Linked DNA regions of Homo sapiens. The protein of the gene in region 4 purifies or fractionates together with the protein of the main gene of each other region. This does not show direct contact. Each region holds a gene or a part of one and is shown on either strand. Other genes may lie near its edges. The genes, in order: SEC24A, ORAI3, ORAI2 and TRPC3.

The links.
Region 1: the proteins of TRPC3 (region 4) and SEC24A purify together in Homo sapiens (affinity purification with mass spectrometry; one large-scale study listed by BioGRID and IntAct). This does not show direct contact.
Region 2: the proteins of TRPC3 (region 4) and ORAI3 purify together in Homo sapiens (co-immunoprecipitation; one study listed by IntAct). This does not show direct contact.
Region 3: the proteins of TRPC3 (region 4) and ORAI2 purify together in Homo sapiens (co-immunoprecipitation; one study listed by IntAct). This does not show direct contact.

What each region holds. Positions count from the first base shown.
Region 1 is NC_000005.10:134,654,596-134,659,456, reverse strand, and holds part of SEC24A (protein transport protein Sec24A), read right to left. Parts: intron 1-4,861. UniProt on the Homo sapiens protein: Component of the coat protein complex II (COPII) which promotes the formation of transport vesicles from the endoplasmic reticulum (ER).
Region 2 is NC_000016.10:30,947,323-30,952,777, reverse strand, and holds the start of ORAI3 (protein orai-3), read right to left. Parts: upstream 3,711-5,455; 5' UTR 3,489-3,710; coding exon 3,261-3,488; intron 1-3,260.
Region 3 is NC_000007.14:102,431,454-102,436,836, reverse strand, and holds the start of ORAI2 (protein orai-2), read right to left. Parts: upstream 3,263-5,383; 5' UTR 3,176-3,262; intron 636-3,175; exon of another isoform or gene 613-635; 5' UTR 504-612; intron 1-503. UniProt on the Homo sapiens protein: Pore-forming subunit of inward rectifying Ca(2+) release-activated Ca(2+) (CRAC) channels.
Region 4 is NC_000004.12:121,906,532-121,911,392, forward strand, and holds part of TRPC3 (short transient receptor potential channel 3), read right to left. Parts: intron 3,857-4,861; coding exon 3,623-3,856; intron 1,037-3,622; coding exon 772-1,036; intron 1-771. UniProt on the Homo sapiens protein: Forms a receptor-activated non-selective calcium permeant cation channel.

The DNA.
Region 1 (4,861 bases), on a different chromosome or scaffold from region 4:
ATATAATGACACCTTCACTAAATGGATAATTTTTTTAAATTCTGAAGTCATTACTAAGTAGCCCATCAAAATAATGGGTCTGTGAGGCCAGGCGCGGTGGCTCACGCCTATAATCCCAGCACTTTGGGAGGCCAAGGCGGGCGGATCACGAGGTCAGGAGATCAAGACCATCCTGGCTAACATGGTGAAACCCCATCTCTACTAAAAATACAAAAAAATTAGTGGAGCGTGGTGGCGGGTGCCTGTAGTCCCAGCTACTCGGGAGGCTGAGGCAGGAGAATGGCGTGAACCCAGGAGGCAGAGCTTGCAGTGAGCCAACATCGCGCCACTGCACTCCAGCCTGGGTGACAGAGCAAGATTCCATCTCAATAAATAAATAAATAAATAAATAAATAAATAAATAAATAAAAATAAATGGGTCAGTGATTGTGAAGGGGTCCAGAATACGCTACTATGGCATAAAAATTATTTTAAGCAGAAGGCATTTGAGTTCCTAAAATCTCTTATCTGCCTAAAACAGAGCCTTCCAAAAGAACTCAATTGTCATAATCTACTTCCCAGGGGCAACCAGGAAAGATGTCAATCTGACTCATGACCTGAGATGAGAAATTTCCACACCACACCTAAACAGATATCATCACAAAACTATCATATCTATTCTAAAAGCCCATTTATCCTTCCTATAAGTCGTCTGTTTTCCAGTAAATGTCCTCTCCCCCACCCCATTCTTCCCCTATTAAAATCGTGTAGAGGTTGGGCATGGTGGCTCATGCCTGTAATCCCATCACACTGGGAGGCCAAAGCAGAACTACTTGAGCTCAGGAGTAGGAGACCAGCCTGGGCAACACAGCGAGACTCCATTTCCACACAAAAAAATTAAAAATTAAAAAATTAGCCAGGAGTTGTGGCACATGCCTGTAGATCTAGCTTCTCAGGAGGCTGAGGCAAGAGGACTGCTTGAGCCCAGGAGTTTGACTTCAGTGAGCTATAATTAGGCATTCCACCCTGGGCTACAGAGTGAGAACGTGTCTCAAAAACAAAAAGGAAAAAGTGAGCATGATAGTCACCCAAGTAATGTTCCAACATATTCAAAATTAAAACAATCAAATCAACTGTGGTTTCAAACAAAATGTAGCATATTGTTTAATGTTTTAAAATTGAATTATATTGCTTTTGATTTTTTTTTGAGACAGAGTCTCGCTCTGTTGCCCAAGCTAAAGTGCAGTGGTGCGATCTCGGCTCACTGCAACCTCCGCCTCCTGGGTTCAGGCGATTCTCCTGCCTCATTCAGCCTCTCGAGTAGCTAGGATTACAGGTGTGCACCACCACGCTGGCTAATTTTGTATTTTTAGTAGAGACGGGATTTCACCATGTTGGCCAGGCTGTTCTTGAACTTCTGACCTCAAGTGATCTGGCCACCTCAGCCTCCCAAAGTGCTGGGATTACAGGCGTGAGCCACCATGCCCAGCCATATGTTGATATTTTTAATGTTTGGTTTTACAATAGTACAATAGCTATAACCCTATGAAGTTTACATCTAGTTTTGTGTTTGCATATACACATTTAATAAAAATAATTTTTGCCAGGCATGTTGGCTTGATCTTGTAATCCGAGCACTTTGAAAAGCCAAGGTGGGAGCACGGCTTGACCTCAGGAGTTCAAGAATAACCTGGGTAATATAGTGAGACCTCGTCTCTACAAAAAAATAAATAATTAGCCAGTTGTGGTGGCACGTGCCTATATTCCCAGCTACTTGGGAGGCTGAGGCGGGAGGATCACTTGAACCCAAGAGATCAAGCCTGCAGTGGGCTGTGATCATGCCCCTGCACTCTAGCCTGGGCAACAGAGTGAGAACCTGTGTCAGAAGTAAAATAAATAAATAAATAATTTAACATTGGGACAGCAGAGAAATATTTAGTATCTATACATTACTCAAATTTTTAAAAACTGATTTGAGGAAACAGCATTCATGGGATTTTATGTGGAATTGAATATGGGTGATGAAGAGAGGAAAAAATCTAGGATGACTCCTAGGTTTCTGACCTGAGCAACCTGGTGGATGGCCGTGTTTATTCATTTGAACAGAAAGAGAAAAGAATAGAAATGTAGGCCAGGCACGGTGGCTCATGCCTGCAATCCCAGCACTTTAGAAAGTCAAGGTGGGAGGATCACTTGAGGCCAGGAGTTTGAGACCAGCCTGGGCAATAGCAAGTCCCTATCTCTACAAAATATAAGTTTTGGTTGTGTGTGTGTGTGTGTGTGTGTGTGTGTGTGCGTTTTTCAGAAATGAGGTCTCGCTCTGCCACCCAGGCTGAAGTGTCACAGCTCACCGCAGCCTCGACCTCCCAAGCTCAAGCGATCCTCCCACCTCCCCTCTTGAGTAGCTGGGCCTACAGGCGTGCACCATTATGCCTGGCTAATTTTTAAATTTTTTTGTAGAGATGGGGTCTCCCTAAGTTGTCCAGGCTGGTCTCGAACTCCTGGGCTCAAGGGATCTTCTTGACTCGACCTCCCAAAGTACTAAGATTACAAGCATGAGCCACTCCACCCACTTGATCAAGGATCAAGGATTACTTGAGCCCAGGAGTTCAAGGCTGCAGTGAGCTATCATTGCATCATTGCATTCCGGCCAGGGCGACAGAATGAGAGCTGTCTTTAAAAAAAAAAAAAAAAAAAAAGTCGGATGCAGTGGCTCATGCCTGTAATCCCAACACTTTGGGAGGCCGAGGTGGGTGGATCACCTGAAGTCAGAAGTTCGAGACCAGCCTGACCAACACGGTGAAACCCCGTCTCTACTAAAATACAAAAATTAGCCGGGCATGGTGGCACACGCCTATAGTCCCAGCTACTCAGAGGCTGAGGCAGGAGAATTGCTTGAACCTGGGAGGCGGAGGTTGCAATGAGCGGATATCGTGCCACTGCACTCCAGCCTGGTTGACAGAGCAAGACTCTGTCTCAAAAAAACAAAGGTGGGGAATGGCAAAGGGAAGAGAGATCGAAGAGTTATTTTAAACACACTAATTTTCAGGTGCCACCAAGAAATCTAAGTGGAGATGTCCAGTATAAAGATATTTATCTGCGCTGGGCGCGGTGGCTCAGGCCTGTAATCCCAGCACTTTGGGAGGTCAAGGCGGGCAGATCATGAGGTCAGGAGAGCAACACCATCCTAAGACGGTGAAACCCCATCTCTTCTAAAAATACAAAAAATTTGCCGGGTGTGGTGGCACATGCCGGTGGTCCCAGCTACTCCGGAGGCTGAGAAAGGAGAATCGCTTGAACCCAGGAGGCAAAGGTTGCAGTGAGCCAAGATCGTGCCACCTCACTCCAGCCTGGGCAACAGAGCAAGACTCTGTCTTAAAAAAAAAAAAAAAAAGATATTTAGCTGCAGCCAAAGTGACAGATTTCACCTTAAGATATAATTATGGGAGTCACTGATCTATGCATAAGATTTAAAACCATGGGAATTAAAGACACCCAGGGAGTATATAAGAGTAAGAAAAATAGGTCACCTTGAAGAACACCAATATTTAAGGAGGAGAGAGAAAAAAACAATCAGAAATGGAAGAAATATTGAGAATACTGCTGTTGAGAAATAGCAACCAAAAAAAAGAAAGAAAACCATAACTACCCTTCTGGTGATATCCTAGAAACCAAAGAAAGCAATTGTTGTAAAAACAAAATAACAGCCAAAGGTATCAAATGCAGCTCGGAAAATGAGAACTGAAAAATATTTTTCTATTTAATAACCAGGAAGCCATTTGTGGCCTTATTTATTTATTTATTTATTTTGAGATGAATTCTTGCTCTGTCGCCCAGGCTGCAGTGCAATGTCATGATCTCGGCTCACTGCAACCTCCACCTCTCGGGTTCAAGTGATTCTCCTGCTGAGAATCACTCAGGAGGCTGAGGCCTCCTGAGTAGCTGGGATTACAGGCGCACGCCACCACACCCGGCTAATTTTTGTATTTTTAGTAGAGACAAGGTTTCACCATGTTGGCCAGGCTGGTCTTGAACTCCGGACCTTGTGATCCACCCGCCTTGACCTCCCAAAGTGCTGGGATTACAGGCATGAGCCACCACGCCCAGCCTTGTGGCCTTATTAAGGACAATTTTGGGATGTGTGGGTAAAGAAGCTAAATTAGAAAGTTAGAGGCAAGAATGAATGCAGATGAGTGCTTCCCACCCAACCAGCAGCTTCAGAATCAGAGGAACCTGCTATAATAATGGTACAAATTGAGATCCCAGGTCCCACCTTTGTAAAATCCTATTTCATAGGATTCAAAAGGATCCCAGAATCTGCATTAGTAAAAAATCTCATGTGGCCGGGTGCGGTGGCTCACACCTGTAATCTCAGCACTTTGGCTCAGGCGGGCAGATCACCTGAGGTCAGGATTTTGAGACCAGCCTGGCCAAAAAGCTGTACGTTTCTTTAGGAAAGCCTGGGCCAGGCGTAGTGGTTCACACCTGTAATCCCAGCACTTTGGGAGGCCAAGGTGGGAGGATCACGAGGTCAGGAGTTCGAGACCAGCCTGGCCAAATGGTGAAACCCATCTCTACTAAAGACACAAAAAAATTAGACAAGCATGGTGACGCACACCTGTAATCCCAGCTACTTCAGGGGCTGAAGCAGGAGGATTGCTTGAACCATGGAGGTTAAGGCTGCAGTGAGCCAAGACTGCACCACTGTACTCTAGCCTGGGGGACAAAGTGAGACCATTTCTGAAAAACCAAAACAAAACAAAACAAAACTGCAGTTTCTAACTGGCTTTGCAAGTTGATTCAGTCAATAAAGGCACTAATTAATGGTGGGAGTCATTATTTGCCTTTAGCGTTAATACATGATAATCAGATTAAGATCCAT
Region 2 (5,455 bases), on a different chromosome or scaffold from region 4:
AGGAGAACTGCTTGAACCCAGGAGGCAGAAGTTTGAGTGAGCCGAGATCATGTGACTGCACTCCAGCCTGGGCAACAGAGCAAGACTCTGTCTCAAAAAAAAATTAAAAATAAAAATAAAAAAAAGGGCTGGATGACATGCTTCTAACAGGTTTACTGCATAGGGATCAAACAGCAGATTCTGGAGCTGGGCTGCCTGGGATCATTCTCTGCTCTAGCTGTGTAATCTTGAGCAAGTCAGTTCTCTGTGTGCCTCAATTTCCTATCTGGAAATAGAGATTGATAACAGCACCTCCCTGCCTTATAGGGTTGGTATAAACATTAAATGAAATATACATGAAATGGGCTGGGAGTGGTGGCTCACGCCTTTCATCCCAACACTTTGGGAGGCCGAGTTGGGCGGATCACCTGAGGTCAGGAGTTCAAGACCAGCCTGGCCAACATGGTGAAACCCTGTCTCTACTAAAAATATAAAAATTAGCCGGGCGTGGTGGTGTGCGCCTGTAATCCCGGCTACTCAGGAGCTTGGGAGGCTAAGGCAGGAGAATTGCTTGAACCCAGGAGGCAGAGGTTGCAGTGAGCCGAGATCGCACCACTGCACTCCAGCCTGGGTGACAGTGTGGGACTCTGTCTCAAAAAAAAAAAAAAAAGAAAGATAAGAAAGAAAAGAAAGAAAGAAAAAGAAAGAGGAAAGGAAAGGAAAAGGAAAAGGAAGAAAAAGAAAAAGAACAGTGCCAGGCACAGAGTAAGCACTAGGTATGTGTTTGCTGTTCTTGCTATAGTGAATGCTAAAGTCTGAGGACAGAGTTTACAAATCGGCACACTGTGGACCACTGCCAGCTTGCAGACGTGTTTTGCTTGGCTCACACAGTGTGTTTCTTAAAAAATGGAAGATGCTGCCAACTTGTAAAACTGAAGAGATTTCTTATATCCCTATTTCCAGATCCCCTTGAAAACTTGGAAGAACTAGCCACACTTGGCCTGCGTTCCTGCATGGCAACTATCAGCTCAAATCAGTCATGGCTGCTCCCCTTGGAAAGGTCATGGGGTCTCTCTTTTTTTTTTTTTGGTAGATGCCAGGTCTTGCTATGTTGCCCAGGCTGGCTGGACTCGAACTCCTGGGCTCCTAGGCTCAAGCGATCCTCCTGCCTTGGCCTCCCAAAGTGCTGGGATGAAAGGTGTGAGCCATCACCCCCAATGTCATGGGGTCTCTTGCTTGCTAGTCCCTACCCAGCCAATTTGGCATCCATATTACCTGCCTGGCCCTTTGCAAACATTTGAGTTGATGACCCTATTCTAGGAATTTATAAATTTGGAGTCTGGAACCAGACGGCTTAGGCTCAAATCCTGCCACTTACTTGCTGTGGGACCTTGGGCAGGTGTCTTAACATCTCTGATCCTCAGTTTCCTCATCTGTAAAATGGCCAGAGTAGCAGTACCCACTTTGTAGGCTAACAGATGATGTATATAAAGGCACTGAGGGCAGTGCCTGGTGCTTAGTGACAGCTGGATACAATTTGTATAATGCTATTCTAACTTAGGCCACCTGAGTTTCAGAAGCCCACTCTCTCCCCATCCCTGGTTCTTGTAGGGTCCATTCGATTGCTCTGGGCCTGGGGAAAGAAGAAGGTAGGTGTAGAGGCTGGCGGGTGGAGGTAGGAAAACAGGGCTGAGTATTTTGGGAAATTGGGCCATGGCAGGTGTCAGGAGGTGTTTTCCACAGACAGGGATCTGGGCCAGGCTTAGTCCTGGTTTCTCCCAGAGCCTGGCCCAGCCTCGGTCACCCCTGCTAGGACTGCGGCCAGTCCTGCCCCCGGAACCTAAACCTCCAGCCCCTTCCTCCTGCAGAGAAGGCTCGGGCCCTTAAGCTGTCACCCCAGCAACCTGCACCTGCATATTCTGCCGTGGAGGGATTGTCTCCTTGGGAACAGGCTGGACCATGGGGTTGACCTCCCTCAGCTTGGGTGGCTGCTCCCTTCCCTCTGCAGGCTGTGCAGATGAAGGGGAGCCAACATCCTGTCCCTAGGTGATGCCCCCATCATGAAAGGTAAGCTGGTCTGTGGATTCTGGGACCCCACATAGAAGACCATAGGCTTATGATGACCCTTAGGGTTAGAGAGTTTCCCTGTCATTGTTCAAATATGGAGGTTGTGGCACAGACAGGGCAGGGACTAGCCCAGATCCCCTAGCGCCATGGTCCCCACCCCAACCGCCTCTGATATCCACCCCCACAGGAGTGCGTTCCCCAAAGTACCTCCTGCAGCTCACTTTCTCCTTTTTCCTGGGGTGATGGTGGGGCAACCCCAGACTAACAGAGCAGCAACCCTGGGTCCCAGTTCATTCGCTCCTGCCCAGAGGCAAGGCTTTTACTTTCCACACCTGTCCAATTAGCAGGCTAGTCTGAGCCATCCTTGGTACGTGACCTGCTCTGACATGCCTGGCTCACCCTGGGGCGGTTACTTGGCTGGCTACAGAGGGCGCACCCTCCATGATCTCAGTTTCCCACTGGCTTGCAAGCGGGGTGGAGGCCTGTCCAGGGTCACACAGCTGGCCACAAGCAGGGAGGAGCCAGGACTGTGTCTGCTGATCCTCACCCTGGGACCTCCCTCCATCCCACTTCCTGTGAGGCCACTGCTGGGGCAGACCGTTAGCCAACACCGTCCTCCTGCACCTGGGGTTTATCAGCTTGAGACTCGCTTATCAGTTTCCTCATCAGCCTCCTTCCCCAGCGGTTCCCTCCCGGGCATGATCTCTTGTCAGTTTTCCTGGTTGACACTAGCACCCCTTGGGCCCGCTGGAGAGTGGCCACCTTCCCTGGGACGGGCCCACCTTCAGCTGGGTGACCCTTCCACCCAGCTAATCCATCTCGAGCCCCCCACCTGTTGATGCAGCCCCCACCCAGCTGACCTGCCTTTGAAGCTGGCACTGGGACTTAGGAACCACTTCTGCCAGGTACAGGCTCCATCTGGACCACTCTGCCTCACTGTTGCAGTCAACCCCACCAGCGATTTGTTCACCCCACTCCCACTACGACACCTTTAGGACTTTCGTGTCCTCCGGTGGCCCCGTCTCCTGGGGTCCCCTGTACACACACATCCGTAAGAAGGGACTTGCTCAGTCCCGCGGGACCTTGTTCCTTCCCCCTTTGACGAAAGCCCCCTTTAACCTGTCTCCCTTGGGACCTGTTTACTTCGCCCCCCCCCCGACCTGTGCCCCCCACTTGCTCTGCCCCACCGGGTGTGACCCCTCCCGGCCCCTCACCATGGCGAAGCCCGAGAGCAAGGCAGACGTGCGGCTGGAAGCTTTGAGCTTGGCCCGGCTGAGGTAGAGGCGGCGCCAGCTGAGCGCCCGCAGCGAGTGCTGACTGGCCCCCATGAGGTCCAGGTAGCCGCGGTGCACGAACTCCCGGTACGTGGCCGAGCCTGCAGGGCTCTCGCCCTCAGGGTTCAGCGGGGCCTGCTCGCCCGCGTCCCCCTCGCCGCCCTTCATCCTGGGGGGGGGGCGGCACCAGGCGGTCACTACGGGGCGGAAGCGCCTCGGGGGCCCCAGCCGGGCCGGCCCAAGCCCGGGGGCGGCCCCATTCCCAGACAGGACGAGCAGGATGCAGGCGGCGGGCGCCCAGGAAGAGGCACCCCCAGTGGAGCAAGAAAAGCAGCGTCTGCGGGGAGCCCCAGGAGCCGGAGCGGGACAGCGGAGGCCAAAACAGGAACTGGGACAGAGGCGGAGCCGGGGCTAGCCACATGATGGGGTGGAGCCGGGGACCAAGTCCCCGCAGTCCCGGGCCCGCAGAGATTCCCCGCGACCCCTACCCACCAAGAACGTTATCCAAGCGCCCGGACCCCACCGAGGTGCACGCCAACCCCAGCCCCCTCCAAGGTACAGCTGGACACCCCAGGTGTCCACACTTCCAAATCCCTCCCAAAATGAGTCCAGGAGAGGTGAGCCCACTCATCTGTAGGTAGGGACCCCGCAGATACACACACGAACTCCGCAGCCCCGGCTGGAAGATTTTGAGTTTTATAGCAAACCGTATTGTACAGACCCGGGGCCCAGGGGCCCAGCCCGGCTGGGTCCCCCGCTTGCCCCTCGCCGGGCTGCCTCTTCCCTCCCCCAAGCGGCCCCATTCTCAAGCCTCTCGCTATCCCCAGGCCCCACCCCTCCGGCCTTTGGTCCGCCCAGCCCTCCCCCCACCCGCGCACCTCCCTGTTACCTGAGGTATGTGGATAGATCTCCCCTCCCCTACATGGTAAGCCCCGGCCCCCCGGAGGCCTGCGCGGAGGGGCGGGACCTGGCCCGGCTCATCCCCGGGGTCCCGAAGCCCCACCCCGCGCTCGAGGAAGGGGCAGGGAAGGAGGGCCAGCAGAGTCTGTTACTAGGTTCCCATGGCAACTAAGAGGGGGCCATTTCCAGCCTTAGCACTGGCATCGGGAGGTGTCCGTTGGCTGCTATTTCCATGGCAACCAGGAGTGGCAGTTCCCTGGGCAAATGGGATACAAGTTTCCATGACGATGAAAGAGTGGGAAGAGCCAGGCTGGAGGAGTCCCATGGTCCCCATTCTTGGGCTGGCGCCCCCAGCCATAATGCGGGTCCGGCGGGTGCCGCCGCTCAATACAGTAAAACAAGAACAAGCCTGGGGGTGGCGCAGTCCCAAATGGGCGCCCACCGGCCCGGTCTCAGGTCTCAGTCCAAGCTGGTCCAGTCCCCTCACACCCCGGCTCCCCCAGGTCCGAGATTCCCCCGGTTCAAGTAACACTTCAGTACAGATGAATGTTCAAGTATTGTGCGGAGAGGCGGGCAGGGGGTTGGGGCGCCCCTCGCCACTCCCCTGGGCCGCGAGCTGAAGAGCGGCTGCCCGCGGCCCCCACTCCTTGCAATAGCTGCCGTTTTCAGTGACGTTCAAGGAGTCAGGGTCAGGGGGAAGGAACTGAAGCCTGGGGAGGGGGGAAGCAGAGAGGTGACCCCCAAGGGGGTATTGCTGTCCCCACACCTGCTCTCATCCCCACCTCCAGCTCAGCCCCAGCTTGCCCCTGGTTCCCCTACCTCTGACACCTGGATCCCCAATTGCTCCTCCGGTTTTCCTTTTGTGGCCCCACCCCCACCCCCCACTCCAAGTAACTGGTCTTTGTTCCCTGAACCCTTGGTGGTCTGCTGTCTGCCCCGCCCCCCGCCCCTTCCACCTCCCCCAGCCCCTGGCTCCCATATCCTGTGTGTGTCCTTTCCCCATTCTCCCCCCCAACACTTGCACCATAACCCCCCTCCCACCGTCCCTTCGGCTCAGCACCCTCCAGTACCTCTGACCCACTCCCCCAGGGGATGGACAATGAAGCAGGTAGCAGGGGCAGGACATAGGAAGGAGAAACCCCCAGAGATATCAGTGCAGGGGGGAAAGAAGGGGGTGGCTGGCTTGAGTCCCTGGGTGGGAATCCCAAGTCACTGACACTCAGGAATCCCAGGGT
Region 3 (5,383 bases), on a different chromosome or scaffold from region 4:
CGGGAGGCTGAGGCAAGAGAATCGCTTGAACCCAGAAGGCGGAGGTTGCAGTGAGCCAAGATTGCGCCACTGCACTCCAGCCTGGGTGACAGAGCAGGATTCCGTCTCAAAAAAAGAAAAGAAAAGAAAAAAAAGAAACGAAAAGAGTAACTTCTATGTCCAGGCCCACATAGGCCCCACGGAAAGTCTATGTCAGGCTGTTACACACAGATCCGTGTTTCTAGGTCCCAGGGAGCGTGGCTGGGGTGGACGGGTGGAGTGGGGAGTGCTTAACAGGGTCAGCAGCTGAGGAAATGCCCCAAACTTAGTCCATCCATGCCAGAGTCGAGCCCCCCATAATTGAAAATGCCCCAATTTGGAAATTACGCAGGAAGGTGCTGGAGGTGGAAAACAGTGTCGCCTTTCCCTTTGTTCTCAACAAGGCTACAAAGCCACAGCCTTCCCTGGCCAACAAGACCTCTGGGAACAGTTCTGTGCTATTTCTGCCAGGGGATGCCAATTACCAGGTCATTTATACGAATGCCAACTCAGGCTCTCCATCCCATCTCCTTGCGCACATCCGCAGCCAGCAGCACCGCATCCAAGCACTTCCATCCCTGGGACGTTCCTTCCCTTGGGGAGAATTCAGAGAAACGCTGCAATCCGTAGGTTAGCTCCACATAATAGAAAATGCTGTAATTTGGAAACTGCATTTTTCCTCTCCCCCCACCCCCATAGTTAACAGAATTGAGCATGCAGGTCTGATGACCGCAGTATACAGAGACTGGAGGGGTGAGACGCTAACCTTTGCTCCCTCCGTCCTCCCTCCTCCATCACACAGGTGCTTAGCGCACTTGGTACTTAAAGATCCAAGATGAAAGAGGCCAGAATTCATGGCCTCCCAGTAGGGGAGCAAGGTAAGGGGATGTGGGTCAGGAGCAGTAGCTCACACCTGTCATCTTTGGGAGGCTGAGGTGGGCGGATCACTAGAGGTCAGGAGTTCGAGACTAGCCTGGACAACATGGTGGAAACCTGTCTCTTCTAAAAATACAAAAAGTAACTGGGCATGGTGGTGGGCGCCTGTAATCCCAGCTACTCAGGAGGCTGAGGCAGGAGAATTGCCTGATCCCAGGAGGCGGAGGTTGCAGTGAGCTGAGATCCTACCGCGGCACTCCAGCCTGGGTGACACAGTGAGACTCTGTCTTAAAAAAAAAAAAATAGCTGGGTGTGGTGGCAGAGGTTGCAGTGAGCCAAGAGCACACCACTGCACTCCAGCCTGGGCAACAGAGCGAGACTCCATCTCAAAAAAAAAAAAAAAAAAGAGGGGGGGGCAATCCTCATCCACTGAGCTAAAGGCTTCAATGGAGGGCAGGGAGCAGAGGACTGGCTGCCTCACACCAAGGCCAGGAAAAGGTGCTTGCAGGTAACACCGGGGAGGGGACAGAGCGGCCCTTTGCATGCCAAAGTGCCTCATGCCTGTAATCCCAGTGTTTTGTGAGGCCAAGGTGGGAGGATCACCTGCGGCCAGGAGCTGGAGACCAGCCTAGGCAACAGAGTAAGACGCTGTCTCTAAAAATAATTTTTTTTGACATGGGGTCCTGCTGTGTTACCAAGGCTGGAGTGCAGTGGCACAATCTCAGCTCCCTGCAAATTCTACCTCCCAGGCTCAAGCGATCCTCCCGCCTCAACCACCCGAGTAGCTGGGACTACATGTGTGTGCCACCATACCTGGCTAATTTTTGGTATTTTTGGTAGAGACAGGGTTTTGCTATGTTGGCCAGGCTGGTCTAGAACTCCTGAGCTCAAGTGATCCGCCCACCTTGGCCTCCCAAAGTGCTGAGATTATAGGCATGAACCACTGCGCCTGGCCTCTAAAAAGAATTTTAAAAAAGAGGGACCTTTCCTCAAAGACAAGATGCTGCCTGCATGGAAGGATTCCGAGAGACGGGAAGGCCACTCCAGGTGTACATGTGGGGTGGCTCTCCTTGTCCAGGAGATATGGAGGGAAGACTGGCTGCCACCTGGGGGGTGGAGGGGGCAGGGAGATGTGGGTGGAAGACACTTGGAGCCTGGGGCTGTGGAATGAGCCAGAGGGTCTGGGCAGCATGACTGGGCGTCCAGCCACAGGAGAATGGAAGAAATTGGTGAGTGGAACGGTCTGGGCACTGCTAGATCATTCTGGTTTGGGACCACAGTTCAACCCAGGGAAATGGCTGGCCGACTGGCAGGAGTGGGACGCAAGGGAGAGCCTGGTGGCCTCCAAAGGAAGGAAGGGTGAACAAGAGGGATGCCCCATCAGTAAGGGTGGGCTGGGCTCAGGTCTGAGAGTGGAGGTGAAGAGCTCAGGGCAGTGAGGGCTGAGGGTGGCTTCCTGGGAGCCGCCAGGCCTCCCATGCCCCATCGGTGAGGCCCTGCAGATGTCCCCAGAGTGGGTGGGATTGTGGAGGAAACGATGTCTGTCTGCCTGGAGCTGGGTCTTGAGACAGGTCTCCAGGTCTCGAAGGAGCAGCCCAGGAGGGGGTTCAAATCCATCCTTTATGTTCCCAATGCCAACTGTGTGTGCCAGGCCCGGTGGCCCAGGGGGAGGGACAGAGTCTGGGCCTCACACTGGATCCCAGGCAGGGGGTGGGGTGGGGCAGGATGGAGCCCTGTACTTCTGTCAGGTGGCACAGACCCTAGAGGATGCTCCGGGACTGAACCTTGTGGGGTTGCTTTTTTTTTTTTTTTTTTTTTTTTGCTTTAATGAGCAGTCCGAGAAAACAGGTCTTGTAGAATAACGCGATCCCCTCTCTAGAGATGAGCTTTTCTTCCTGGCTGGCCTACTGGACACATTTCCAGAGGGCGGTCTTGGAGTTTGACTTCCTCTAAGCATCTGGGGCACCGGCAATGGCGAGTGTCTCTCTCCAGCAGGCGCACTGGGAGGGGGCCTCCCAGGGGCGCTAGGCTGCATCCCTGTCCCTCCCCCAGGGACGCCCCGGTGTCCGGAACCGGCTGCGCCGCCGACCCTGATCCTCTGGGCGCCGCACCCCGCCAGGGATCCCGCGGGGTGGAGGTCACCAACCCCGGATGGGTAGTGACCGCGCCCGGGCAGCCTACAGTCGTCCCCTTCCCCGCCGAGCGTCCCCGGTCCAATTCCGGCCCCCCCAGCCGCAGGGACCCCGCTCCCCGCGCCAGGCCCCCGCGCCGCCACACTCACCGGAGCTGCCCTCGCCCCGCCCGGCTCGGCTCCCGCTCGGACTGCGTGGCCGCGTGGCCTGTGGCCCAGTGGCCCGGCCGGGGCGCCGAGCGCGGCCCCCTCCCTCCTTCCGCCGGTCGCGCGGGGTCCCCCGGCCCCGCCTCCACCCCGCCCCCGCGGCCGCCGCAGCCGCTGCCAAGGCAACCAGGCGCCGCCAACACGTGACCCACCCGCGGGAGAGCCGCGGCCACGTCACCCGCCGGGCCGGGAGGGGCGGGGCTGGCGGCGCCTCCTCGGAGAGTGGGGGGGTGGGGGTCCCCGCCTCACCTGGAACCACCCCGGGATCGCGCGAGGGAGAGGAGCAGGGGAGGTGGGAAGACCCCGACCCGCGCGCATCCCTCCTGCCCCAGCTCCTGTCCCCGGCCCCAGCTCTGGGAGTCAAGGCGAGGCCCCCCACCGCCCCATCGGGGGTCCGGCTACCCACAGACCACGAGCTGGGCTTTCCCTGCCCCTGGGTCCGGGCGCAAAAGGGGAGCCCCAGGCTTGGCAGGGTGAGCCTCGGGGGGTGCCCAGCATTGGACGCTGGCTGCGTAGAGGGGCGGGGAGTGGGGACAGGGCGGGCGGGTGCAGGTGGGCAGTGGAGGGGAAAGGAAGGTGGGGAGGGGAGAATCCGTCTGGCCACGCCCGAGTTTTCACAGGATTTTTTTTTTTATTTTTTTGAGACAGGGTCTGGCTCTGTCGCCCAGGCTGGACTGCAGTGGTGCGATCACGGTTCAATGCAGCCTCGAATTCCTGAGCTCGAGTGATCCTCTGCCCTCAGTCACCCAAAGTGCTGAGGCTACATGTAGGCAGGAGCCACCACACCGTGGTAGTTTTTAAAAAATTTGTTTTTGTTTGTTTTTTGAGAGGGAGTTTTGCCCTGTCACCCAGGCTGGAGTGCAGTGGTGCCATCTTGGCTCACTGCAACCCCCGACCCCGGGGTTGAAACGATTCTCCTGTCTCAGCCTCCGAGCTACAGGTGCACGCCACTAGCCTGGCTACTTTTTTGTATGTTTAGTAGAGATGGGGTTTCACCATGTTGGCCGGACTGGTCTTGAACTCCTGACCTCAGGTGATCCTGCCTGCCTCGGCCTCCCAAAGTGCTGGGATGATACATGTGAGCCACTGTGCCCAGCCAAAAAAAAAAAAAAAAATTCTTTTTTTAGAGATAGAGTCTTCCTGTATTGCCCAGACTGGTCTTAAACTCCTGGCCTCAAGCAATCCTCTCTTAGCCTCTCAAAGCACTGGGATTACAGGCATGTGCCACAATGTCCAGCTAATTTTTAAATTTTTTAAAAAAATTGAGATGGGTCTTGCTATGTTGCCTCTGCTGGTCTCGAACTCCTGGGCTCAAGTGATCCTCCCACCTCAGCCTCCCAAAGTGCTGGGCATAGAGGCATGGGCCACCTTGCTTGGCCCCTGCCCAGGGTGTTGGATGGCACCATGAAGAGCTTGCACTGAGCTAATTGGGGGTTGCCACCCAGAGTGCACTGCCACTCACAGACCCAGCGAGACCCCTGGGGTCCCAACTTCAGTGCAGCGTGCTGTCCTTCTCATGCTGTTCGCAGACAGCAGCAAAGAGTTTCTGCTGTGCCCTGGCCCCTTCCACTCCCTACTGCAGGGAGCCTCTCACCTTTAACGGTGAATTCTCTGCGGTTTTACGAGCGAGGCAGTCAAACAGGAGCATTCTTTTCAGGAAGTGCAGCACATGAATAATTCACAGACAGACAAGATGGGTTCCTATCAGCCCGGCGGTGCCAGACGGTCCCTTGGAGTCCTTCCTCCATGCCGGGTAGGCTGCTGCGTGCCCTACATAGGATTTTTCCATCTGTCACAACAGCATTGGACCGTGACACATTTATCCAAACGAAGGAAAAATTCCACTCATGTCAGCCAGCCCACATTTTATGACAATTGGAAGAGTAGATGTTACGGACGCCAGGTTAAATCCATCTACACTTCGAGTTGTCTTTTACAGGCTACTGCTGACAGCCAGAATGAAACCAGGAGGACACTTAGTCTAATAAACCAGGTTTCCCCCTCCGGGTTACTGACCTAAAAGGCAAGTTAGGCCCTAACATGGACATAAGCAAATCCCAGGGTTCCTTACTGGCCCTCCTCCTGCCACCCCCATCAATGGCTATGGGTGAGGGAACATTTGAATTTCAGGGGTAAAGTCCTCAAAAAGCA
Region 4 (4,861 bases):
GATGTCTACAAGGGCTTGATATGCTACTTTAGTCTATAGAGTACTTACTGAGTGTATAGTTTGTTTCCAGCAGTGGCATTATTGGGAACAAAGGGAGAGCAGGGAGGGTTTATGACCTTCCCACCTGGAAGAACTGCAGTAGAAGGGGGGCCCTATATTCATGACAACCAAACACCACTGGGTGAGAACAGATCTCACAATCTGGGTGTCTCCATGCTGCAGGAACTTGAAGGGAAAATGACTAAGGAAACTTGATCAAGGAAGACTTCATGGAAGAGGTGAGTCTCCAGTGTAGAAACCAGTATGGCCAAAGGAAGAAACTGGTATTACCATGATAGTGGGCTATAAAATGTTTAGCTATAACTTCCTCTTACTCGACTTCCTGTACCGATCAATGAATATATTAAAATAAAAGCTGATGCTTCCTTTTTGAAAGAAGAGTACTGGCTACAAAATGATGAAACTAATTTTAATGTTATACATAATGTAAGAGACATCCAGTATTAGAAATCTGTTATCCTGTTTTCTTAAAATAGCCAGTTTTGTCTAGGGTTTTTCCAAATTCTGACCCATTCTGTGGTCAAACTCTCACTAAGCTCAGAGATGAGCCTTCAGAGCAATATAATCAACACAAGCACTAACTGTTTTTGATGGATTATTTTCTGTGCTTAAAAACATCTTTATTACAATCAGAGAAATTTTTCCTTTGCTTCCTCTAGATTGGTTAGAATTTCTCTTTATCATACCTGTATAATAAGATATTTTACTTACGTGGTAAAAGCAGCATTAACTTTAGCCCCAAGGTAGTAAGAATAAAGTATGAACATGCCAATCATAAAGGCAAAAAACACCATAATAAAGAGGACCATGAACTTGAATATGTCCTTTACAGTCCTTCCAAGAGAGATCTGCAGGGGGCCAAAGCTCTCATTTGCAGGGAGGATGTACGCAATCCGAGAGAAGCTGAGCACAACAGCTATGGCATAAAGGCCTTCAGATATAATCTGAGGGTCAGAAGGGAGCCATTTATCTCTAGCTAGAAAAAAGAGAGAAAGAGATTAAAAATGGAGCTTTCTATTCATTGCCAACTACGCAAAGCAAATACCTTAAATAGGATCTATCTTGTAGGTAGGTGGTTACCATCTCAGTTGAAACTAATCTAGATTTAATTAACTGTCCAGGGACTATTTTCATCTTAAACCAGAAACGTAAATTCTATATTACTTTAGATGGAGGGTACACTATTATAAAGATACTAAGCTGACTCCACATTCAGCAGAAACAGAATAAAATACAAAACATGGAGAGGTTAAAACACTTCGTTAGACACAGACTGTATCCAGGATGACAAAACAACTGACTTGACTGATTTGTCCCTTCAGTCATTAGATTTACTGACCAGTTATTTTGTCATCCTATAGGCACAGCCGGAGTGTAACTTCTTTTCCATATCTTGTGGGAAAATTAGTTCATCCAACAATTCATGCAAATAAAATATTTCGAGGAGTGAGAATGTCACTGAATCACAATGGTGCTGACGATGTGTTATCTCAGCAATATAACTTGTCCCCGAAAAATGTAAAATGCCACTGAAGTAAAAGAATTTTGGATATAGATTCAGAATGAGGACCCCTAACAACCCTTTCAAGGTCACTTATTAAGTCTGCAGCAGACCTGTCAGGTCAATGAAATATTATGTGGTTAATTGTGCAAACTTGCAGACATCTGCAATAACAACAAAACTTAACATTTGTTGATCAGTTCAGCCACTGTGGAAAGCACTTTGAAGATTTCTCAAAGAACTTAAAACAGAACTACCATTCAACCCAGCAATTCCATTAGTGGGTATATATCCAAATGAAAACATATTGTTTTACCAAAAGACACATGCACTTGCATCTTCATTGCAGCACTATTCACAATAGCTAAGATACGGAATCAACCTAGGTGCTCATCAACAGTGGACTGGATACAGAAAATGTGGTACATATACTCCATGGAATACTATGCAGCCACAAAAAAGAACAAAAATCATGTCCTTTGCAGCAACATGAATGCAGCTGGAGGCCATTATCCTAAGTGAATTAATGCAGGAATAGAAAACCAAATACAGCAGGTTTTCACTTATAAGTGGAAGCTAAATAGTGGGTATTCATGGACATAAACATAGCAACAATGAAACTGGAAAACTACTAGAGGGAGGAGGAAAGGGTTGAAAAACATCTATTGGGTATATGCTCAGTACCCAGGTAATGAGGTCATTCCTAGCCCTAAACCTCAGAATCATGCAATATGCTCAGGTAACAAACCTGCACATGTGCCCTCTGAATCTAAAAAAAAGTTTAAAAAATTAACATTTCTTGACTATTTAATATGTGTCAGACACTGCTTTCAATGATCCTATGGATTTGATATTATTATCCTCTCTTTAGAGATGCAGAAACCAGACTTAGAAAGATTAAAAATTGATCAAAACAATACATATAGGAGATAGGGAAGCCTGAATCCATCCCTTCCAGACAACAGTCATCAAATATACATAAATAAATTTCAATAAATAGGTTATGAAATGGTCAAGATACCTAAAATACAATCTAAAATTAATTCTTTAATTACAAATGGTGATCATTTGCTCATTTGAACAAGTCTCCTTGGTATATAAAAGTCTTTGCTTGCTGAGAATAACAGAGGTGCTTAATTACATCTTATATTTTGGAGCGGAAGTCCAGCCTTCAATAACATTAACATGCTCCTTGTACTCATCACAATGTGCCCTAATTACACCTATAAAAAAGTATTCTTCACAACCAGATCACAGTTAAACTCTGTGCCTGAGTTCCCTTACCTGTAAGATGAAGATTAGACAACACTTTCTAAAGTATTTTCCAGATTTCAGATTTTACAACTATATCCAAATTTGCTAACTGTGGCTCCTCAATTTGGCCTCAAGGGAAGGGAGGCTAACATTACTTACCATTGGTTTGTACGGGGCAAGGAAGGCATCAATGTTCTTTCACACCGGATGTCAGCTGAGGTCTCACTGCTCTTCATAATATAGAGATATTTGACATGAACCCCATTCCATGCCATGTGAACAGGACAACATCCTCCCAAAATATTTCTGCTGGTTCTCCAGAGCTTACATTCTCACGGTCACTTTAGAACCTACTTCCTGCCTCTGTTGAATTACCGTTCACTTTGCCTGCAGAGCAGTTTGGCAACTTTTATTATCTTATCTCCTTGAACCCATGCTCTCAGGGACTTACCTTCCACATCAAGCAGTTTATCAAACTATTTTTTCCCTAATTAAGACAGTCTCCCAATAGTAATTATCTTATAGGCTTAAAGGTAATTTTCTTCCACCTTGCAATATTGTCTTTTTATAGCTATGAAAACTGAGGCACAGTGAAGCAAATTGACTTGAACAAGTTTACACAGCAAAGGGGGTCAGAGCCTTGAAATGAATCCAGTTTTGTAGGTTCCAAAGTTCATGCTTTCTCCACTGTCCATAAATATTCAATACACCTCTCATACTAAACATACTCCAATTGGCATTTCCTTCCAAAATGTGGTTCCAATACCTTTCCCAAAACACAAGGGGACCCTGAAGCTAACAACTTACCATAAGTGAAATACTGTATCTCTGGTGGGAGTGTCACTTCACTGAGGTCACTCTCTTGGACGTAACTGTCCACATACTGTTGTGCCTTCGTTGCCTGAAGGAAAGCTAGGAATCTGGCTGTGAAAGCAGCAATGAAGATGGACAGCATCCCAAAGTCAAGCACATTCCACAACTGCAAAATGTATTCCCTAGGTCCTTCCAGCCAGAGCTCTTTACATTCAGACCACATCATTCCTGTCACAACAAATACAGAGGGTGCAGGTCAGATTTTACAGGCCAGACTGAGAAGCCATTATTGTGTCCACCATCAGGTCACATCTCTACCCTACACGTCAAGCACAGTACTAGGCATCACAAAGCATTGACTGACTGACTGTATGGTCACTGAGGCCCTGTGCAGAGTTAAATGGAAGAAGCTCCTGCTAAGAAAATAATTCACCCCACCACACTAGAATTTGGAGAAGCGGTCCACATGTGGCACCAGAGATGTCTCTATTCATGAGAGGAGGTGGTGGAGGGGGGTGAGGAGAAGAAAGAAGGAAAGGAAATAAGGAGAGAAGGCTCTTCAAGTTATCCCATAAGACTTTTGGAGAAGAAAATATGTTCTATACAATCACAATGGTTAGTTATCAAACCATAGTGATTATTGGAGAAATAAGTCCACAAGATTTTTAACAAGAAGAACAGTTTCCCAATGATACTCATATCACACTCTTATCCTCTCTTCTCATTTCCATGTCATGCTAAAAAGTGAGCAATATCGTTTGAAAAAGATGAAACCCTTAAGTGAGAGGTCCTAGGACATTCTGAAGAAACTGAAAGCAGAAAATGCCATTCTGGGACAAGAGGACAAAATAGTACAACTTAACAACTTAACAAATTGTCCAACTTAACAAATTGTCCTGACTACATAAAGGGAAAATACTGTAGAATTTTTAAAAAATGTAATGGCTTAAAAGAAAATGTATAAAATAATTACTTGACCTAGGCTGAGGCCACAGGAGTGAATGGGAGGAAGAACTAACCTACTAACTCCGAAAATGAGAAGACACCAAGACTCACATTGGATAAAACAAATACAAAAATGACTTCGGATTAATCAGAAATAAACAACCTGGTTCCAATCTCCATTTCTTAGCAGAGAACACAATAAATTCTTTTCCTCACATTACTTCAAATTCTTATTTTAACACAGCTATTCAAAATGGGTTATTGTAAGACGAAATAGGTTGGTGCAAA